Linked DNA regions of Homo sapiens. The protein of the gene in region 1 purifies or fractionates together with the protein of each later gene. This does not show direct contact. Each region holds a gene or a part of one and is shown on either strand. Other genes may lie near its edges.

Region 1 (3,018 bases):
GTGATGTGGGTGTGAACATACGATTATCAACAGTGCATAATGCTTGATGAAAATAATAGATGCTGATGTTATTGTTTTATGTATTTAATATCCTATATTTTTTATTGTTATTTTAGAGTATATGCTTACTACTTTTTTTTAAGGTAACTGTGAAGCAGCCTCAGGCAGTTTCTTCAGGAGGTTTCCAGAAGAAGGCATTCTTATCAAGGAGATGACAGCTCCATGCCTGTTACTGCCCCTGAAGACCTTCCGGTGGGACAAGATGTGGAGGTAGAGGACAGTGAAATTGATGATCCTGACCCTGCTTAGCCTTAGGCGAAAGTGTCTGGTTGTGTCTTGTTTTTTAACAACAAACGGTTTAAAAGTAAAATAAATAAATAATGAAAAAAGCTCATAGAATAAGGTTAAAAAGAAACAAAATATTTTTGTATAGCTATATAATTTGTGTGGCTTTTTTGTTTATTTGTTTGAGACAGGGTCTCACTCTGTCACCCAGACTGGAGGGCAGTGGCACAATCACAGCTCACTGTGGTCTCAACCTCTTGAGCTCCAGAGATCCTCCCACCTCACTCAGGAGGACGTCAGTCCTCCAGGCAGACGTCAGTCCCCAGGTGGACCCTGGACTCAAAGTGTATACCAGGCCCCAAGTTGACAACCAGGCCCCAGATGGACACCAAGGCCCTAGGTGGACAGCAGGCCCATGTTGAACACCAGACTCATGAGGACATCAGGCCGCAGGTAGACATCATGCCTTAGGTAGATACGTAGGCTCCGGGTGGACATTAGACCCAAGGCTCCAGGTAGACATTAGACCCAAGTCCCCAGGTGATCATCAGGCCCAGGTGAAAACTCAGGCCTTAGGTGCACCTCTGGCCTCAGGTGGACACCCAGGCCCCAGGTGATCACCAGTCCCCAGGTGGACACAAGGCCTTAGGTGAACAACAAGACCCAGTAGGCCATCAGGCCCCAGCTGGATACAGTCCCCAGGTGAACACAAGGCCCCAAGAGGGACATAGGCCAAGGCAGACATCAGGCCCCAGGTGGACATCAGGCCTGAGGACGACATCTGGCCCCTGGTGAACATCAGGCACAGGTGTCCAAGCAGACCCTGGGTGGACATAACTGTGTACGGGTCAGGAGATGACCTGAGGGGAGGGTGAGTAGTCAGCAGCCCAGTGGAGTCCTGAGTAGGTCTTATGGAAGGAAGGGGACTAGGGGACAGAACCGTAAAGAAGCGACCTCACTTCCTGGATGATGACCACACGAACAGAACTTAGAACTCTGGTAACCAGGCACCCATATCCTAGAGTCAGCGCCGTAAACAGCTCACTTGGTGGGAGTCGCTCAAGAGAGCAAGATGTTCTCGTGTTGCTTCCCCACTTCGAGAGGTTGCTGCTTCAGGAATGGAGGGAGTGAGAGCCTTTTCCGACGATGCCGAAGAAGGCTCATCCCTCACCCCAGACGCCTGTCGCCCGTTGTAATAAGGCGCATCCAGGTACCACAGGACAGCCTGGGGCAGGCCCTAGCAGGCCAGGCCACACCAGAGATCCCATTGGGGCTGCAGCTGCACACTGTCCTTGTCCAGGAGATTCAGGAGCTCATTGAGGCACAGACACTTGGTGAGGTGGCCTGCAGCCTGGAAGACTTTGCGGGGGCGGTGATTTTGGGCTGGAATTCCCTTAAATTCAGTGAGGTCGTTTCTGTGTTTGGAAATTCCAGTGGAAAGTGACTGAGGCTGGTGACCCTTTCTCCTTTCTCAGCTCCTGGTCCATGTGCAGAAGTAAGAGCACTGCCAGCACCAGCGGCGGAGCCAGAGCCAGCATGGGAAGAGGCCCCTCCAGAGAGAGCACTGGAGCTGGAGGGAGCTCCAGCCAAGGACCAGACCAACGAGGAGCTGCCTGAAATCACGGCACGTACTGTAGCCACTAGCCCTAACCCTGGAACTGAAAGCGTGGCTGGAGAGAGAAGTGGGAGGGAGGGGGTGACCAGCACAGCCCCAGCCAGCAGCTCCCATGCTGCCCCTAGTCCTGGGCACGGTGGCAAACATGCAGGCAGAGAGCAGGGCATTTGGCCTGGCCTCCTGTACCTCGCTGGAGAGAGGCTTCTCTCATTCACTAGAACCACAGTCCTGCTGCTGCAGGTCCGTTTATTCTCCTGATCCTGGTTTATCTGTGTGCAGGAGGTGCCGGAGAGCATTAAAAGAAGGCTGGGAAGAAGAGTTCCAGCAGCTACGCCTGCTCCCAGAGGCAACCTCCTCCTCCAGGCATGGATGCGGGTCCACAGCTGGGCATCCAGGCTGTTTGCCCCTAATGTGCTGCCCGGGACAGGCCCTTAACAGGCGGGCAGTGGGTGAGGGGACCAGGAGGTGGCTCCAAAGGGTAAAGCAAACAAAGCTTTTAACGACAGCCGTTGTGCCCCAGGCTCTCCATGCCACCACCTGCCCTACCATTTATTAATAGTGTTAGAATTACAAGTTGATGAAACGAGATTACAATAAAGTTTGATTTCTGAAACTTCATGCCTTTTTGAACTCCCTAATGTTAGATGGTGTTTTTGAGGCTATCCTGAAAATCTCTGATAGTTGTGTCTTTTGTTGTGGTTGTTTGTGTGGCTGAATTACCATCGAGTCATCTGTTATTGGAAACCTTTCAGGTATGGCTTTTAGAAGACCTTGACCTACTCTTGACTGTTTTGACTCTCTGGTTTATTGTGGAAAGAGGGATGATGTAGGCTCATGTCTCCGGCAGATCAATCACCTTTTGCCATCAAGGATTTGGCATCAGAGTTTCCAAGAATTATGTGTGCAAGTTGATATGCTGCTACTTTAGCTAATCTGGGTGTCAAAACAGAATGCCATAGACTAGGTAGCGTAGAAAATTGATTTCTCACAGTTCTGGAGATGGTAAAATCCAAGGTCAAATTGTCAGCAGATTCCGTGGGGCTGACTTCCTGGTTCATAGACAGCCATCTTTTTTACTGTGTCTTTACATGACAGAAGGGATGAGGGAGCTCTCTGCA
Region 2 (3,500 bases), on another chromosome or scaffold:
TCTGTCTCTGATTATGCCTGCCACAGAGTAAGTACTTCCTAAAAATTTGATGAATGAATGAATGAATGAATATCAGACTCTGTCACTTAGTTCTCTGAGCACATGCTTTTGACATCATAGCACTAAGTTAGCATTTAATACTCTATGTATTCCTGTAATGCCTTCTGTTTGTCTGTTTGTTTGGATACAGGATGTCGCTCTGTCCCCCAGGCTAGAGGGCAGTGGTGTGATCTTGGTTCATTGAAGCCTCAACCTCCCGGGCTGAAGTGATCCTCCCACCTCAGCCCCCCAAGTAGCTGGCACTACAGGTGTGTGCCACCATGTCTGGCTAATTTTTGTATTTTTTTTTAGTAGAGAGGAGGTCTTGCCATGTTTCCCAGTCTGGTCTCGAACTCCTGAGCTTAAATGATCTGCCTGCCTCGGCCTCCCAAAGTATTGAAATTACAGGCATGAGCCACCACATCCGGCCCTGTGATGCTGTCTAATGATACCCTGCGTGTGTATTTTTATTACAAATTTCATCTATTTGAGTTCTCTGGGGAAATATTTCTGAAAAACTATTTTATAGTATATCCACTATCAGTGATCTAAGTCCTATAGAATTTTGTCAGTTTAAATTTACTCCTTAGTATGCCTAAAAACACATAACCTGAAACTGTAGTGCTGAATTTTTTAAGCTCTGGGCAATTAGAGTAATTTTGCTATTTATCACTGTGTTTCTGATGAGCTGAACATCCTAGGACGTTTTAGAAGTATTTTCAATGTAGGATATAAACTAGTGAAATACCTGCAGTAAAGAATAATGAAGGTAAATTAGCCACTGTTCTACTCAGATAATATCCCCCTGTGTTTTTGAGAGATGGTCTTGTGCTTTAGGCTGGAGTCCAGTGGCACGATCAGCTCACTGCAGCCTTGAACTCCTGGGCTTAAGGGATTCTCTCTCCTCAGCCTCCTCAGTAGCTGGGACTACAAGTGTGTGTGGCAACATGCCTGGCTAATTTTTTTTTTTTTTAATGTAAAGACAGGGTCTTCCTGTGTTGCCCAAGCTAGTCTCAAATTCTTGACCCCATGTGATGCTTCTGCCTCAGTCTCCCAAAGGGCTGGGATTAATAGGTGTGAGCCACCAAGCCTGGATTTTTCCCTGCCTTTTTTTTTTTTTTTTTTTTTACACCTTAGGTATCTTTTGAAGCAGAAGCTTTAAAGGACTCTGGCTTTGAGATTCTTCGTAATTTACTTTTATGTTCATCAATACCACAGATCCCCTCTGAAGCTTCCATCTTTCCTGAGAATCCCCAAGAGGGAGAGTTCAATCTTATATTGGCTGTTCTTTGGTTGAAAGAAGAGGAGGAACATAAAGATTCTTTTAGATAAATGGAGTGAATCATTGAGGGCAAGAGCAGGAAATGGTAGAGGGAAAAGAAACACAGAAGAGAAAAGGAATTTGGTGGATGGTGGATGAAGGATTAAATGTCAACTGAGCAGCTTTTATTTGTAATTACTGTAAAAATGTAGATCTGCCAGCAGGAAGGATAAATCTGGAGATTTAGATTCTCAACTACCTCTGACCACAAGGATCTATAACAACTACAGCATCATGATACAGTTCATAATCAGTAGTACAAGCCATTTGGGCAGCCCTTATCCAAATATTTGTATCAAAATTGCTTCCAGCCTAGATTTCAGAGAAGTTCTGGCAATCTGGCTTTTTATTTTTATTTTTATTTATTTATTTATTATTATTATTATTATTATTTTACCTTTCATAGAATATAAATTTAGACTGGGCAATCCTATGAATTTTTTTCTAAGCTTTATTGCTTTATCTGATTGATTATAGAAGAATAACATGTTTAGTTCCCAGGGGACAGAAACAGATGTCTCTTGCACATCTTTGTAATGTAACAAACAAATGCTCAATAAATATTTGTTGAACAAATTAGTTGTAGAAAATTACTCAGAGATAGGTACTGCTAATAATTTAATACAGTTTATTTCAGGCTTATTTCCTAAATGTTTTTAAATCAGTATTTCCAAAATGGCTTTTATATTTAATTTATGATTGGGAATATGATACAGGTCTTTTTTCTGTTTGATTGAAATGACCAGCATTTTCCCTAGTCGTTAAATATTCTACAAAAGTACATTTTTTTTTTTTTTTGGATGACAGGGTCTTGCTCTTTTGCCCAGGCTAGAGTGCAGTGGTGTAATCATACAAAAGTACTTTTTTTTTTGAGACGGAGTCTTGCAGTGTCGCCAGGCTGGAGTGCGGTGGCGCAATCTCAGCTTACTGCAACCTCCTGACTCCCTGGTTCAGGTGATTCTCCTGCCTCAGCCTCCTGAGTAGCTGGGATTACAGGCATGTGCCACCACACTCAGCTAATTTTTGTATTTCTAGTAGAGACGGGGTTTCACCAGGTTGACTAGGATGGTCTCAATCTCCTGACCTCGTGATCTGCCCACCTTGGCCTCCCAAAGTGCTGGAATTACAGGGTGAGCCACCACACCCAGTCAAAAGTACTATTTTTAAAGGATCCGTTGAATGAGCCTTCATTTAGTTAATCATTCTAAGTTGCATATTTGTTATTTCTAGTTTTTAAACTTTTTTTTTTGCAATTATAAATGATGTTATAATTTGCGTAGAAGTCTTTGTCATGTAGTCTTATCACTAACGTGGGTTCCTCTGGATGCTAGATGAATTAGGTCTGCTATGGGGAATCTCCTTTATGTATGCCTTTACTTTCTTTTCCTCCAGCCAAGAGTCACCATTCTGGAATGGCTTTAGGCACTTTGAAACATATCCCAAGATCCCATTTTATAGAGACAAAGCTTAATGTATCATCACACTTCTAGAAGCATTCATTCATTAAAGAAGTATTTGTTGAGTGCTGACAATGTGTTAGGATATGGGGATGCAAACATGAGATGAAGTACACTGTCAATAAGGAACATATGGTTTAGTCAAGAAAACAGACGTGGCCAGGCGCAGTGGCTCACGCCTGTAATCCTAGCACTTTGGGAGGCCAAGGCTGGTGGATCACCTGAGGTCAGCAGTTTGAGACCAGCCTGGCCAACATGGCAAAACCCCATCTCTATTAAAAATACAAAAATTAGCCGGGCATGGTGGCAGGTGCCTATAATCCCAGCTACTTGGGAGAGGCAAGAGAATTGGTTGAACCCGGGGGTCGGAGGTTGCAGTGAGCTGAGATTGCGCCACTTCACTCCAGCCTGGGCAACAAAAGCAAAACTCCATCTCAAAAAAGAAAAAAGAAAGCAGACATGTAAGCAGTCATAATTTGGTAGAAAATTATGTGCCATAGAGGAGAAGTGGAAGAAATGCCAAACTCTGCCTTTATTGGGGATGAAGGAAGGGAGAGAGAGGAGTGTGAACCAAGGAAGATTAACAGAGGAAGGAACATTAACTGGATTTTTAAAAGAAGACCAGTGGTTTCTAGGTAGAGAAGATAGGAAAAGATATTCCAGGCTTTGGGTATAGTATGTGC

What was found. The genes of interacting proteins can lie anywhere in the genome.
Region 2: the proteins of CDRT15 (region 1) and MAP4K5 purify together in Homo sapiens (affinity purification with mass spectrometry; 3 studies listed by BioGRID and IntAct, with this or other methods). This does not show direct contact.

What each region holds. Positions count from the first base shown.
Region 1 is NC_000017.11:14,235,173-14,238,190, reverse strand, and holds CDRT15 (CMT1A duplicated region transcript 15 protein), read left to right. Parts: upstream 1-1,328; 5' UTR 1,329-1,357; coding exon 1,358-1,619; intron 1,620-1,760; coding exon 1,761-1,909; intron 1,910-2,179; coding exon 2,180-2,335; 3' UTR 2,336-2,518; downstream 2,519-3,018.
Region 2 is NC_000014.9:50,526,070-50,529,569, reverse strand, and holds part of MAP4K5 (mitogen-activated protein kinase kinase kinase kinase 5), read left to right. Parts: intron 1-3,500. UniProt on the Homo sapiens protein: May play a role in the response to environmental stress. Appears to act upstream of the JUN N-terminal pathway.